2 separate regions of the Homo sapiens genome follow, and region 1 is linked to region 2. A link means that fine-mapping ties the variant in region 2 to the expression of a gene that starts in the linked region. Tissue or cell type: cerebellar hemisphere. Region 2 holds a variant in brackets; the other region holds the start of a gene. All regions are shown on one strand. Distances are from middle to middle.

Region 1 (8,101 bases), 52 kb before region 2:
AGCTTCTTGAGGGCAGAGATTTTTATCTGTTTTCCAGCTGTTGCATTCCCAGTGCCTGGCACCTAGCAGATGCTTAATACTGTTGAGTGCGTGAGTGAACATGTGTGAAGGCAGTTAGATTTTAACGCAGGGCAGCACAGACCTCCTGCTGTGCGGGTGGCTGATTCATGTCAATTATCTGCCATAATCTCTCTGTGTGGCCTCAGACAAGTTGCCCCTCACATCAGTCTACCCATGGCCCGTGGGTCTCAATGGCTTCTCAGCCTTGAGGTTGGCCAAGGATGATTTTTATGTGGACAGAGAACAAGGGTCAGGGCCCCCTCCAGGGGGAGAGGTGAGGGAAGCCCTGCTGAGCGCCTTTGCCAAAGGTGCTATATATAAATAGCAGGTGGTTCAATTATTATCCTTCCCTAATCTCCAGTTTCCTAATCCCCCAGCAGGTTTGTGAGTGTGTATGTGTCTTGAGGAACAGTGAACAGCAGAGCCTTCTGGAAGTCCAGGGCAGGAGGCTGCCTCTTCTCTGACTTCATCAGCAGCCCCCATCTCCACTCCCACCCCAGATGGAGTCTGGTGACAGATTTTCCCAGGAGCCTCCCTGGTTACCTTCATGGTCTAGACCCGATGTGGCCTGAAGAGTTGGAGACCTTCCCTGCACCCACCTCAGATACCAGGATAACCCCAGAACAATCTTTCTCATTGGTGCCCAATTCCACGCTCCTCTCTCTCCAGTCCACCCTCCGCTTGCAGACTGGCCTTTTAGACACATAAATCAGACATGGCCCTCCCGTGCTGAAAACCCTCTAGGGGTCTCCCAACTGCAGAATAAACGCAGGCTCTTTACCCAGGTCTTGGAGACCATCCCACCCTCCCCAGTCCTGCATACTGCGCTTTCTCTCCTCCGGCCTAGCCACCTGGGGCCTTCCCCTCCTTGTGCTGGGCCCTCTTCCTGGAACACCTTTCTCCCCAAATCTTCGCCTTGCTGACCCTACTTGTGATTCAGCAACCCATGTCTCAGGGAGGTCTTACTGGCCCCCTTATCTAAATACGCTCACCCCTCTCCTTCTCTAAGTTCAATCTTCCGTTCTTCATTAATTATTTCTACTTGTCCACTTACCTGTCTCCCCTAGTAGAATATAAATTCCTCATGGACAGGGACCTCGTGCTCTCCCACACCCAGAGAAATGAAAATTCCCTTGCACTTCAAATGCTGCCCAGAACCCTGTGGGTTCTCAAGGACTGTTGTCAAACACTTCACTTATTTATCAAATGCTTATGTTGCACTTGGTATGTGCTAGGCTCTTTTTAACATGTCTTACAAATATTAACTCATCAAATCCTCACAATTGAGACTCACGCTGGCCTCGTCTCAGATGAAGAAGCTGAGGCACAGAAGAGGTAAGGCACTTTCCAGTCCACCCAGCTCATAACAGTAGCCGGGGGATTTGAACCCACGGAGTTCAGCCCATGTTCTCAAGTGTGGCACCTTCCCTGCCCCCCTGCACAACAGCAGGGCCATGCCTTCACCAGGAGGCTCGGGGCAGGAGGGGAGGCAGTGGTGTTACTTTGCACAGGTCTTTAACCTGGGAATCAGGAATTCAAATCTTGTTTCTACCCCAAGCTTTGCTGTGTGGCCTTAAGCAAACCTATTCCCTCTCCGGGCCTCAACTTTCTGTCCATTTACAGGGTTGGGCCTTCTCTCACCTTGTGTCATTCCTGTCCTCTTAACCGCCACTGTGTGAACCAAAATTCTCTCCCATTAGCAGCGGGGTCTTGAACTTGTGTTCCTCCCACAGTGCGGAGCCTTCTGCCAGGTGACCACGACACTGGCACTCCCCATCACTGACCTGGCTACTACAGGAACGGCGTTCCCTCCGGGAAAACCGGGGTTCTGTCCTCTCCAACTCCAGGCCTCTGGCCCCGGCTCCCCTTCCCCTCATCTTCCTCAGGGCTTGTCCTTCTCCCGGAACCCAGGCCTTCAGGGCCCCGCTCTCCCACACACGCCCCGGCCTGGGCCTCCCACCCGCCCAGTCCGCCCTCCACCACCGAGACACCTGGCCAGGGGGCCTCCACCTCCCTGGGAAGGCCCCGACCCTTCCCCTCTGGTTGCGCGCCACAGCCCCCTTCTCGCTCCCTCTCCTCCCCGCGCCTCTTTTCCAGGCGGCACCGAAGTCCTTCCTACACACACGCTATTTTTGTACCATCATCTCTTCTTCCTCTCCCCTTCCCCCTGCGTTCACTTACTTCCTTCTTTTCCTTCACCTCGGCCCGGCTCTGAAAGGATCGGGCCCCTCCGGCCCGCACCCACCCCCAAGAGGGGCCTTCAGCTTTGGGGCTCAGAGGCACGACCTCCTGGGGAGGGTTAAAAGGCAGACGCCCCCCCGCCCCCCGCGCCCCCGCGCCCCGACTCCTTCGCCGCCTCCAGCCTCTCGCCAGTGGGAAGCGGGGAGCAGCCGCGCGGCCGGAGTCCGGAGGCGAGGGGAGGTCGGCCGCAACTTCCCCGGTCCACCTTAAGAGGACGATGTAGCCAGCTCGCAGCGCTGACCTTAGAAAAACAAGTTTGCGCAAAGTGGAGCGGGGACCCGGCCTCTGGGCAGCCCCGGCGGCGCTTCCAGTGCCTTCCAGCCCTCGCGGGCGGCGCAGGTCCGGGCCCGGCAGGGACGGGGAGGGGCAGAGCGGGACCGGTCGGGGCTGGGGACCAGCCGCGCGGGCTTCTGAACGGGCACGCTGTCGGAGCCGGAGGCTCGTCTAGTCCCGAGCCCCAGCGGGCCGCGGCGGCTCGCGGGGCCGCCTTCCCGGGACAGCAGCCGGGGCCCGGGCGCCGGCGCGGGGGAGGACGCTGCCCTCCCCGGCCGGGCGCGCAGCTCGCAGCCCTCGCTCCCTCCCCCGGGGCGCGCAGGCGGGCGCTCGCTCGCAGAGAAGGTGCCGGCGGGGCCGGAGCCCCGAAGCCTCCCCGGGCGGCGGGAAGACGGGAGGAGGGGAAAGGGAAGGAGGGAGGGGGTCGGGCTGCCGGGAGGGCGGGGGCAGCGGCCGGGACTGCGGGCCGGGAGCGAGCCCAGCCGCCCGCGCCGTGTGGAGCCCGGGCGGGGCAGGTGGGCAGCGGCGGGGGCGGCTCCGCGCGGCCGGGCTCGGCCGTGCTGCCCCTCGCCCCTGCTCGCGCGGTCCTCTCTCCCGCGCGGTCTGTCGGTCTGCGCGCCGCCTCGCTCCTCGCTCCTCGCTCTCCCCCTCTTTCTCCCCCTCTCGCCTCTCCGTGTCTCTGGCTCTCTGCCTGGCTCCCTTGGGTCTGTTTCTCTCTCCTGCCGCCTCTCTCTGGCCGCCCCTGGCTTTATTTCTCGCGCGCTTGGGGTCTCTCCCAGTCTCCGTCTCTCCATTTCTCCTGGGGGGCGGGGAGGGGGGGTCTCCAAAAACCGCGGCGGCGGCGGCGGCCGCTCCAGGCGCCCGTTCCGGAGTCGGGGGGAGGCCCAGCCGGGAGGGGGGAAGGGGGGGAGCCTTAGTCATTTCCCCGCTCCAGCCTGCTCCCGCCCGAGCGCGCACTCACGGCCGCTCTCCCTCCTCGCTCCGCAGCCGCGGCCCATGGAGCCCGCCGGCCCGGCCCCCGGCCGCCTCGGGCCGCTGCTCTGCCTGCTGCTCGCCGCGTCCTGCGCCTGGTCAGGTAAGCACCCCCCCGCTCCCCACCGCTGCACTCCCCAAACTGCGGGCTCAGGCCTCTCAGACTGGCACTGGGACCCCTTCGGCTAATGCCGAGCAGTAATAGGGGGAGAGACGCCTGTAACCAGGGTTATAGATGCAGAAACTGAGGCCCAGAGAGGGCCAGCGACATGCCCAAGGTCACACAGCCAAGGGTAGAACCCAAGTCTCTTCTATGAGAGTTTGTCTCTGTGGACTCTGACTCTGTGCACTGTGCTGGGCACTGAGACAAAAGAGCCGAGTTGCTTCACTCAGCCCCTGCCCGGTCCAATGGGGAAGGCTGACTGACAGTGGCTTTCAGAGCAGGGCCGTCCGGCTTCCCCAGAATCTGTCCCCATGGACATACGACTTTCCACATGTTTGACTTCAGGGTGTGAGGGGAGGAGGTGAGGGCAGAGGTCCTCCCGATGCTGCCTGGAATGGAACAGAGACAAGCTGTTGCAATTAGGGAAGAGTGAGCCCTCCCTCTGGTGCGCAGAGTAAACCGGTGTTAGTGTGTGCCTGGGAGAGAGGGAGCCGGGAGGCCGCGGTAACCCCAGAGCGAGCTGCTGCGAGCAACAGATCCTTATGTAAAAACACGGTGGATTGTCCCTGTGGTTGCCAAAGCCTCTCCCTGGTGGTCTTGCTCCTTGAGGCGCTCCCAGCTCCCCCTTCCTCCTGCCTTCCCCGAGCTTCCAGGCAGCTCCCTGCAGTTCAGGTGCTCCGCGGGGATGTTACCTGTGGCTCTGACCATGTCTTTCTGTTGGCCTACATCAAACACCTGGCTGTCGCCGGCAGGCGGGCTCTGAAGGCTACTGTGCATGTTCACCAAAGGGTGAGGTCACCATTCAGGAGTCTTGCTTCTTAAATGGGTTTTGCAAAACCATGGGTCTCCTGGGAGGGCACCGGGTGGGGGGCGGGGGGAGCAGAGAAATGGCATTAAGGGAGTTGGGAGGGAGAGAAAAATGGGGATCTTGTTTTTTGTCGTCTTGAAACTGTGTTGTAGGCAGTGGGGTCTCTCTGTACCTCCCACCCTTGAGGAGGGAGGTAAAGATGAGCTCAGTGTCCAACACCCCCTTTTGCGTTTGACTAGAGATGGTAACCATCTGATAGCAGGGAGAAAGGGAGAACTAGCAAAGAGTGGGTGGAAGGAGAAGTATGGGGGGTAGACAGCTGCTTCTCTCTGCCCTGCAGTTTCCCCTGAAACCCAGGAATTCACATAGGCATCCCCCCACCCCACCCCACCCTCCACCCCCAGTTCTTTTCAGTTATAGTTGCGTCCTTGCTGGGCTGAAGGGAGCACTGATACAGTTCACGTCTCTCCAGTGAGTGGCATCTCCTATCTGCTCCTTCCTGCCTGAGCTGGCCATTTGTACCCTGCAAAAGTCCGAGTTCCTGCCCTGCCATCCTTCCTGGCCTGGAAATGCACAAGTGTCACTCACAAGTGCTTAATTTTCCTGAAGCAGGGAATTGGGCCCGAGTTAATTTCTAAATGTCTATTCCAGACCCTTCTCCGACCAGGAGGCTGTGGTTCAGTCCCTGGCAAACGAGCAGTGACGCTGATTAGCAAGTGCTCCGATGGGCAGCCTGCCTTTCCTGGGGCACCGGCTGGGAACACCAACACCTTTCTTGTGAGCACATCTCCCCCTTTTGCCTATAAAAACAGTCTATAAGATGGTAAAGATTGGGCCATAAAACTTCCGTTCCAATCCATTCAGCATCAATAGCCTGAAAAAGTGGGAGCAGCAGAGGGGCCAAGATTAGCTTTGAAATAAATAAATCTTAGGAGGTAAGAATGAATTTCTTGGTCGAGGGTGGTGGGGAAGGGATGAGGTGCGACCATCATAGCTCAAGTCTCCCATTATCCTTCAGTATCTGTTCTTCGGGGTCCTGGTCACACCATGGGCCTGGGCAGGGAAGTCACCTGGTTTGGCTGAAGGATGGGGCCTCAGGCCCCTCCCCCTATTGCTCCAGACATGGAATTTACAACAAAGAAGTAGAGAGACAGGATATGAGGGTAGGAAGGTACAAGGAGGCAGTTGTCCAATTTTCTAAGAAAATGGATTTGTTCGAGTGAGAAACTAAAATGTCAGGTTTAGGAAGGCGGCTTTGGATTGAATGACTACTAGTGTCTCAGGCAGAACTGTCAGCCTGGGAGGTGTCACATGATTCCTGTGTCTTCACATGATCACTGTTTTGGGGGGGTGGGGCCAATCATGTGAATTATCCTGGGTGGGGGAGGCAAGAGAAGAAGTTTCTAAAGATTGCTTTTAGCACAAATGCTGCCAAAGGGAAATTCTAAAAAGATCCCAGTGAAGTCACCAACCTATGTTTTTGGACCCAATGTGAGGCCTGTTTCCTAAAACAACTGCACTGAGGGAGATTCTGAGGCTGGGAGAAGGGCAAGGGACTGAGGCCTGGGGACACCTGGCACCTGATTTTGTGTCAGCAGGGCCTGACGCTGAACCCGCAGGATGCCTGCTTGGCCCCAGGTAGGCCTTGAGACCTCTGAGTCACCCCCCAGGCCGACCTCAGATAAACTCCCATTCATTTCTTCTCTCTGGCCTGGAGGAGGCCAAGCCAAGTTGCAGTTCAGGCTCTGGGGAGCAGCGGGGCCCCCCAGTGAACCTCTCACCGTTTGGTAGAGGGTGGCACTCTGGGGGCTCCTCTGTACTTTCCTAAATGGTAAAGTTAATCTCACTTCCTCTTTCGTAAGAAGAGAAAACGGGGCGGGAGTGCTTTGGCTCAACACATCAGGCTGTTGGAAGTTCCTTTAAAGCCATAGTTTTCTCTGAGTACTTTCTGGCCTTTACCAACCCCTCGGAAACTCACGGTAATTCACGTCTGTACTTGCAGTCATGCAGCACCTATGCAGTGCTGGTGTGAACCATGTGTTGAGAGAAGGGAGGAAAACCAACATTCATTAGATAGTTAATGGCGTTCCAGGCCGGATGCTGCTCCTGCGTCGTCTCACCCGCAAGACATGGATTGGCTCTTCTCCCCATTCTGCAGATGCAGAAAATCGAGTCCCAAACTGGGGAACTAACTTATAAGTGATAGAGAGGAGCCAGGATTTTGGATGCTGGCCTTCCTGCTGGGTGGCTTCTAGGGAAGAAGCTCAATGACTTAATCAGGATGATTTAGTCCAAGCTGGAGAGGGAGTGAGAGAGGCCCCTTTCTGGCCTTGGGTGGAGGACTGTAGAAGAGTTCTTTCTCTGGGCAGAAGGTTTTGATGAAGTCACAGGCATTTCTCTGAAAGCCTGCTGAGGGTGGAAATACTGACAGCCCCTTGGTCCTCACCAGTAACAACACATGAGAGGTGATGTGGCTCCTGTGAGAGCCCCCCATCTGGGCTGCTGAGCTCTGGAGCCCCCAGAGCTGGAATATTCCTCCCTGCATCTTCCTGGTGCCCTTTGCGACAGATGGAGAGGGGGTGTGCGAGAGGAAGGGAGTCTAAAAGTGTTGTACGGATCCCACACGCGCTCGCTTGCTGCTTCCAATGGCTCCGTGCGACAGGTTATTTTCTTATTTGTAGTCTTGGACTGACGGAAGGTTTCCCCCCTCTCTCTCTCTTTTTAAATGTGCTCAGATTTCTGGCCTGTCAACACAACTCAGATCATGTCACTCCCCAGCTCAAAACTGTTGAGTGGGTCCAAGTTTTCTTTAAAAAAAAAAAACAAAAAAACACAAAGCTGCCGTGAGGCCTGGGCTTCCTCCCTGCCAGGCCTGATTTCCAGCCACATGTTTTCCAACAAGCTGACCTGTTGAGATGCTGCAGGATAACCAGGCTTCCTCCCTGCAGACCAGAGCTTTGCTGGCTACTCAGCCACACGAGCACCCCAAAGACCCTGAGAAGCCCTGCAATGTAGAATCCCGAGCTGGGTCACATTTACTCCAGTGTTCCCTGAACTTATGAACGAGAGGCATTTGATTTGTAGTATGCCCGTTAGCATGTGGCCTCTCTCCGTTTGGTAAACGGTTTTCTACAGATCCATGCCCTCAGCTGAACTCTCAGCTCTGTGCCTTGGCCCGTGCTGTTCCTGCCATCAGAAATGCCCTCCCTGTACCTCCTTGTCTTCCTGTGTCTGAATCCTACTCATCCTCCGAGGTTCAATTTAATGTGCCTCCTGGGGAGAGGTCAGAGGAGCCTCTCCACGCAGACACACACCCTGGCCTAGCGCTAAGATGGTGCTAAGACCCCTGGGTGTTGATCTGAGCCCTGCTACTGACTTGGACAATTTGCAGGAATCTGTGTCTCATTTTGCTCATCTGTAAAAGAGGAATGGTATTAACCACTCTATTGCAAGGATTAAGTTAATTAATGCGTGTATAATGCTGGAAGCCATGCCTTGTATGTAGTAAGCACTCAATACATATTAACCAGTGTTGTAATTAGCATGGCTTTATTCTGGTTTGATTCCTCTTTTTTAACAATTGG
Region 2 (8,101 bases):
ATCAATCCGGTTAATGTCCCACAAGGCAATAAGGCCATATCTTTGGAGATATTTTTTTTCTGCCAGACAGAAGCCATTTGCACCCACCAGACAAAAGTCTACAAATTAGCCCCAATCTGGGCCTTAATCAAATAGGAAAGACAAACTCAGGTATATTCTTCTACAGAACTAACTAATCCTTCAGTGGGGCTTTTAAACCGTGCCCCAGTATGGCAACGAGATGAAGCACTGCCTTCTTTTGCCTTATTTCCAAATTTGAGATACTTTGTCTTATTAAAGGAAAGTATACTGGCTTCATTCAGCCTGCACAGGGCAGAAAAAGACTTCTTGAAGAGGAAATCCCTGAACTGAGATCTAAAAAATAAGTAACAAGAAGCCAGGTAAGTGCAAAAGAGCCAGTGCAAAGGAGTTCCAAGGAGCCAGTGCCTGGCAGAGGCCAGCCGTCCCTGTGTGCACTGGCCCCTACTGAGCTCTGCAGCCCGATTCACACCACTCTCTCCATCACTCCCTGCACTGGCAACACCAGCCTCCTGCCAGTTTCTAAAATGAACCACAGGACCCCGGCATGAGCTACTCCCTCTGCCTGCAACACTCCCTGGATCTTTCCTGCTTGTCCTCCAATCCAGAGGCTGGGCTAAGTTCCCTTGTCAAACACTTCCATAGTAACCATGTCCAGCCCTTCTTTGTAGCCCTCATCTCAATTTGTAATTATACATTGGCACTGTGATTACATGATTACCATCCTCTCCTCTACTGCCCCAGTTGCTGCCTCAGGGCAAGGAGGGTGTTGATTCACTCATCAGTGTAACTCCTATGCTAAGCCCATAGGAGGCACCCAGCAAATATTAGAGGGATGGGAGGATGGACGGAGTGATGAGAAGGAGGATGAGAGGATAGATGGATGGAAGAAGGGAGGCTGAATGGATGGCTGGATTGATGCAGGAGAGCACGGATGGGTGGATGGGTGGGAAGGAAGAAAGGAAGGGGGAGAGGGAGGGAAGAGAGCAAAGGGGGAGAAGGAAGAGCATAAAAGTCGGAGTCTGCTTGGCATTTTAGGAGAACTGAGAGTCCCTGGCTGGCAGGTTTGGAACTAGAAGCAAACCTCAGTACATCTGACTTTTCCCACTGAGTTTCTCTGCCTTTCATCATGATCCTGGGTTCAGGGCAATCACTTTTTTAAAAAAATGACGCATGATCCCCAACAGGCAAGGAGCCAATGACCTTTGTCTGAGCCTTTGGTTCCTCTTCTAGAGAAACTGGGGCTATACTTAGAAAACAGGATAAAAGATTGCAAAAATTTGTCTACTCTCAAATTGCACAACCCTAGCGTGGCTGGTCAATGGCTCAACTTTGGGAGCTGGCGGGGCTCAGCCTCTCAACAGACTTGTCCTCCTGGCTCTGCTTCAATGACAACAGGCCAAGCCCTCATGGTAGAAGGTGCCGTTCCCACCAACCTGGGCCTTCTGCCCCCGCAGGCCCTCTCTGGGCAAGGTCAGCTGGTGCGGCAGCCGGTCGCATGGATCTGGGCCACAGACCTGTCTCCAGAATGAGGCCGGGTGAGAGTTTAATGGCAAGAAGGCTGCAGCCTGACTAAGGCTGTCGGCTTGATTCTGCCATGGCTCCCCCCCATGCCAGTAAATGGACCCTGTGCACATGCAGATTAATGCATTATCGCTAATGTTTTGTGCCAGATGCAAAGGCACTCGGGCAGCCCGGCCGAGAGCTGCCATTACCACAGGACCTTTTGCTGGAAAATTTTTCTTGGGGCAATTAAATCTTCAGCTGTCTCCTCCAAGGGAGTGCCAGCTTGCATTTTAATTATCCTCAAAAGAGGGAAGTAGGGGAAAGGACACAAGGCAAAGAATGAAAAAATAACAACCTGCTTTATAAACACAGTGGTTTCTCCCCCATCAACTCCACAGTGCCCTTGACCTTTAGATTCCTGCCTCCCGATACCCTTGGAAGGACCCCTTTAACGGGAAGAAGGGAGAGGAGGTAGGAGAGAGCGTTTCTTGAGTGTGGAATAAGTGTTAGTGCAATGCATTATGCCTGGTTAATTTTTTTTAAATTTTTTTTGTAGAGACAGGGTTTCCCTATGTGGCCCAGGCTGGTCTCAAACTCCTGGGCTCAAGTGATCTTCCTGCCTCAGCCTGCAAGTAGCTGGAACTACAGGTGCATGCCAACCAGCCCAGCTAATTTTTTAAAAAAATTTTTGTAGAGACTGGGTCTCCCTACGTTGCCCAGGCTGGTCTCAAATTCCTGGGCTCAAGTGATCCTCCTGCTTCAGTCTCCCAAAGTGCTGGGATTAGAGGCGTGAACCACCATTCCCAGACTCATGGAAAGTTCGAGAACCGGCAAAACTCATCAGTCAGGTGCTAGGGCGAGGGAAGCACTTGACTAAAAGGGACAAAGGGAACTTTCGGGGACCTGGAAATGCTTATCTTGATTGAGGTGGTGCTTACATGGGTGTACATATCAGTCAAAACTCATCAAACTGTATACTTTAAAATGAGTGCATTTTATTGTTTGTAAGTTAATACTTTAATAAAGTTGATTTTAAAATAATAATAAAATAATACGAGTTAATATTTATCTAGACCTTACTATGTGCCGTCCTAGTCGCGCTTCGTATGTGTTAAGCCCTTTATCCCTCACTCCAATCTGTGACATAGGCACTCAGTACCCCGTTGCCCAAATGAGGAAATTGAAACACAGAGAAGTTTGGCAACTTTCTAAAGTGACGCAGCTAGTAAGAGGCAGGGCCTGGGTTCAAATGGAGGCAGATTTTAAGCCTATAGCTGAACAGCGAAGTCCAAGATTACCCAACTGGTTATTACTAGAGGCAGGATTAAACCCCGGTGCCTTTCCAACGTGATGAAACCGGTGGAAGAGGAAAACGCATTCATTCACTAGGGAAACATTTACTCATCCTCCGCTGCAGGTCGAACTGTAGACACAGAGAGCAACAGACAAATCCCAGGCCCTCGTCGGGGAAGAAAGGGATCATGAAATAAACAGAAAAATAAATGCGAAATGCGGCCAGCGATGAAAGCTCAGAAGGCGAGCTTACCCCGGACCCAAACGCGCAATACTAACCGGGAGTGTAAGGAGGCCACGCCCTCCTCGCGTATTTGTGCCCAAATGA[GCTGC/G]CTCCCCAGCGTGCACCAAATTCCTGAGCCACCTGCTCCGAGCTCGATTTCCCTTTCAAGCTGTGTGTTCTGCGGGGGCAGGGAGAGCTGCAAGGGCTCATCTTTCAGGACGTGCTGCAAAGGCCCTTTGAAGTCATCCGCCCTGCTCTTGGCACCTTGCGCCTGGAGCTGAGCTCTTCCAAAAATGACCCCTGCGCATTCCGTGGTGCGGCCGCCCAGCCCAGGCAGTCGCGGTCCAGAGCAGGGGAAGCTGCAGCGCGGCCGACAGCTGGGAGAGCCGAGGCCCTGAGGGAGGACCCTGCCTCAAGCCAAGCAACCAGGCCCTGCGGCCCTCTCCCCACCCCTGTGCGGCCCTGGCGCAGGGAACCGGGACGGGGCTTTCAGGCCTTGAAGGGCAGACTTACTCCACCAAACATTCCCATCGTCGGCTGATGGAGGGCCTCGAGCTGGGCGCTGTGGGTACGTTATCCTATTTACTTCTCTCGGTAGCCCTGCACCATCGCCTCTGGTTCCCAGGTAAGCACAGAGAAGCAGATGACTTGCCCAAGATCACACAGTACTGCAGGAATAGAATTGGCGTCTGGACCTCTCCCCTAATACCCCACGGCCTCCAGAATCTCACCTCAGCCCCTGTCCATCCCGAAATAAACACTCTACACCATTTAGTGAATGTTCTTTCAGAGGTCAGACCCTATACATTCATTTCCTGGCTCCCCCATTTCCTGACTGCGTGACCTTAAGCAAGTTTCTTAACCTCTCTGTGTCAGCGTCCTCCTCTGTAGAATGGTGCCAAAAACTGTACCTATCCCAGAAGGTTACTGTGAGGACCAAATGAGACAAGACAATAAATGTAAAAGTGGTTAAAACTGTGCCCAGATGATAGTGAGCCCTCAAAAACTAGTCACTCTTCTAATTCCATAGACTTGATTAATTTCTGGTTTTTCATAAGTGGATTTACATGTATACATTTAAGGCACCTTTCCAAGTAAGACATACAGGTCTACCTCATTCTTTCAAGCAGCTTCATAACATTCTTGTATTCATTCATTCATTCATTCATTCATTCACCAAACATGTGTAGAGCGGGCAGCTCCTGTACACCAGGCAAGGGCATACAACACACTCAGTCCTTGCTCTGAGTTCTCATGGGAGGGATAATTGACAAATGCATGAATAAATAGTTGAGAGCATTTCACCTTATACTGAGTGCTATGAAGAAAATAAGATGGGGCCAGGCTCTGTGGCTCATGCCTGAAATCCTAGGACTTTGGGAGGCCGAGGCGGGCAGATCATTTGAGGCCAGGCATTCAAGACCAGCCTAGGGTTTTAGTAGAGAAAATCCATCTGTACTAAAAATACAAAAAAACAAAACAAAACAAAAATGCTCTATGTGGTGGTGCATGCCTGTAATCCCATCTATTCTGGAGGCTGAGGCACCAGGATTATTTAAATCTGGGAGGCAGAGTTTGCAGTGAGCCGAGATCTCACCACCACACTCCAGCCTGGGTGACAGAGTGAGACTCTGTCTCAAAAAACAAAAAAAAAAAAAGAAAAAAGAAAAAAGTAAAAAGAAAAGATGGACAAAGTGTTAGAGAGACGCTGGTTGGGAGAGGGAAAACAATTTACAGACAGTGCGTGAAGTCCCCAGGGATATGGCATTTTACTGCCACCGGAAGGAAGAGAAGGAAGGAGAATGGAGCAGTCCAGGCAGAGGAAGCAGCCAGGGCAAAGGCTGGGAGGCTGCACTAAGCTCAAGTGTGATTCAACTGGAGGTAAAGAATGAGCATTTTTGAAACCAGGTTGGAGAGTCAGGCCAGGGCCCAGTGAGACAGCGCCTGTGGATTTTAGCCTGAGAGACATGTGAAGTCCCTGAACCCGGGGGTCCTGCAGCTGTGTAGGAACAGATTGGAGAGGCACCAATGGAGGAACCAGGAAGTTTGTCAGGCTACAGGATTCAGAGGCACGGGCAAGAGGCGATGGTGGCAGGGACTAGGGATGCAGCCTCCAGCCTGGAACATGCCTCAGTGGCAGAGCCCACGGGACCAGCTGATGGGGAAGACAGAGTTGAAGGAAAAAAAGAAACAAGTTGCCACTGACAGATGTCAACATAATAATTTAATTAATGAATTCCCTATTGATGGAGAGCTGGACTGTTTCTATTTTTTCCCTACTTGCAAACAATTTTGTCTTAAACATTATTGCATAGATAGCCCCAGATATGAGATGCTTGGATCAAAGGGGTGAACTTTTTTTTTTTTTAATCATATCCAGATGGCCACATTGCCTCCATTCCACTTGTGTCCAACATGCAGGAGTTCCAGTTTCTACCCTGGAACTTTCTCCTCCTGCTGTGCTCCTGGGAACACTCTGCCCAACCCCTCCACCTCTGGCACAGACCCGGTCTCCAATGCATTTGTATTTCTTGCTGCAATCTGGAATTATAAGTTGTTAAGAAGAAAACCTCAGAACCAGGCTAAGTGGCTAAAAAGACTGCCCAGGGGCCTCTTTTTCCAGCAGGAGGCAGAGAGAGGCTTCCAACACCCTGAAGAGGGCCAGTTTACCCCTATTCTTCCAAATACAAGGAATTGACTTTTATTTTTTTTTCCCTCTTCAGGCCTGAAAACAAGCCAGAGCATTGAATGGCCATGAAAACAAGCAGTGAAAACAGGCCCTGAGGTTACAGGAAACCCTTCTCCCCACCACTCTCTGAGCAGCGGGAAGGAAGGGAGCCACTGTCCTCTGGGTCCTCTGCCCTTCAGCCCTCCTGGAGGCCCACTGGCCTTCCCCATCTCACATGTGATCAATGCCCCCTGGTTGTGGCCACCACCTGCTGCCTGACCCCCATTCCATGCCAGCTTTTGCTACCAGAGTTTCCTTTTCATAAGTGGCCTTTTTAAAGGAAGTATTTTCTTTTAATCAGCAGTCACTGCATCTGTAACAGTGCTGAAGCAGAATTTTGTTATTTTCCCATTACTTAGCGCTTCTCTGTTCCATTTATTTGGGGGAAGAATCGCTAAGATTTCAGAGATTCGTAGCTCTCTTGTACGCGGTATCTGATTTTCACTTTGGCATTTGGAGATGCTTTTGAAGGTGGTTTATGTTATCTTTCCAAGACTTACCTGGTGAGTTACTTAATCAAGAGAGGATTTTGAAACATACTGCCTCTTAATATCTTGTCTTTTGTTTTTGTTTTGTTTTTTTGAGACAGAGTCTCACTCTGTCGCCCAGGCTGGAGTCCAGTGGCATGATCTTGGCTCACAGCAACCTCTGCCTCCCCAGATCAAGCAATTCTCCCACCTCAGCCTCCTAAGTAGCTGGGATCACAGGCACACACCAGCACACCTGGCTAATCTTTGTATTTTTAGTAGAGACAGGGTTTCGCCATGTTGGCCAGGCTGGTCTCGAACTCCTGACCTCAGGTGATCCACCCACCTTGGTGTCCCAAAGTGCTGGGATTACAGGCGTGAGTCACCGTACCCAGCCTATCTTGTCTTTTAAAACAAGTGACTTTTTTTTTACAGCAAAATAAATGGATAGCAACTCTTTGACACTGCTAGTAACTATTATTAATTGACTGCTTAGGAAATGTCAGCTGCCAGGCTGGGCTCATTCCCATTGGATCTTCTCCGCAGCTCTCTAAGGGAGGTGTGAGTTTTTGTATACATTTAATGTGTGAGGACACCAAGGTATGGAGAAGTTGACTACTATCAGTAACTTACCCAAAGTTACAGACCAGGGCAGAAATGAGGTGCAGATTCCATACTCCCCAGGGCCCTTCCTTTGTAACCATGGTTACAAAGCCTCTCAGAGGGAAGGCGGCGGATTCTCCTGCAGGTCACTGTGGCAGTGACATGGGCAGGGGTGGCGGACAGACACATGTTCCCGTTTGTTCTTACTCTTGTCCGTGGCACCTCTTCCTTCCGACTGCTGGTCCAGCCGATCCATGGGCCTTGCAAGTCCACACTAGAGGCAGAATCCCTTGTTCTAGATGACTCCTAAAGGCTCAGCATCTCTAATTCTCTGATGGGATGCTGACTAAGGCACAGGGGTTTCAATTCTATTTGGGAAGTGACCTGTTCCCCTCCATCTAGACTAGACAGATTTAACAAATAAAAATAGAGGACCCCCAATCACATTTGAATTTCATAAAAATAATGAATACTTTTAGTATATATCATGCAATATTTGAGATATAAAAATCACTTGCTGTTTGTCCAAAGTTCAACTGTAACTGGGCATAGATATCCTGTATTTTCTCTGTCAACCCTCTCTCCGTCCCCCAGTAGATGCCCTTCTAGAGAGACCTGCCAGACTGAGCCGCTTCCGTCAGCCAGACATGAGGATAAGAGCGTTTAGGTAAGTGCTTGGTCAGCATGGAAGAGCCTTGGGGAACTGAGTGGGGTGGGACAGGCTGAGGAGCCTTACGGGGCCTTGGTTTCCCTGTCTTGGCTACAGTGTGGAGCTCGGACATCCCCAAGGAGCCCACCGTCCACACATTGACGGTCGCTGCTTTTAACATAAAGTCCAGCTCCCCTAGTGAGGCACTGAAAGGCCCTGTCTGCCACCCCACCTCGCCTCCTGCCCAGCTCACACAGCCACCTGGAAGGACTTAAGAGTCCCTCCCAAAACAATCTCTTCTCACCTGTACCTTCACTCTTCTTGCCTGCCTTCCTTGTGTGCTGTTTAAACTCCTATTCACCCTTTATGCCTTTAATGCCACCTCCTCCCAGAAGCCTTCCCTGACCACTGCAGGAAGAGAGGCAGTTGCATTCACTTCCCTGTCACTTTGGGCCTCTTTGACAGTTTGATTACAATAAAATTACAGCTTATGCAAGTTTAACGTGTGCTTCAGACAAAAGAAAAAAGAAAAAATACAGAAAGAAAGACAAGAAGAGAGAAAGAAATTAAGTAAGGACCATGTGGCTCAATGGGCACACACCCTAAGTGGTTAT

What was found. PIP is the estimated chance that this variant, and not a neighbour inherited with it, causes the effect.
Region 1: SIRPA starts here. The variant in region 2 is fine-mapped to the expression of SIRPA in cerebellar hemisphere (GTEx, PIP above 0.99). The same link has a PIP of 0.9 or more in cerebellum.

Annotation. Positions count from the first base shown.
Region 1 is chr20:1,891,878-1,899,978 of GRCh38, forward strand. SIRPA (signal regulatory protein alpha) reads left to right here and starts at 3,530. Exons shown (of 8, transcript NM_001040023.2): 1 at 3,530-3,649. The coding sequence starts at 3,571. It overlaps LOC102724545 (a long non-coding RNA gene), which reads right to left and starts at 2,373. Exons shown (of 4, transcript NR_186374.1): 1 at 2,242-2,373. RefSeq lists silencers at 2,494-2,753, 2,764-2,883 and an enhancer at 4,175-4,690.
Region 2 is chr20:1,944,044-1,952,144 of GRCh38, forward strand. It overlaps PDYN-AS1 (PDYN antisense RNA 1), which reads left to right and starts at 3,167. Exons shown (of 4, transcript NR_134520.1): 1 at 3,167-3,608; 2 at 7,436-7,505. RefSeq lists enhancers at 1,486-2,032, 3,466-4,013 and silencers at 3,160-3,454, 6,800-7,094. The variant GCTGC/G (reference allele first, on the strand shown) is at 3,146.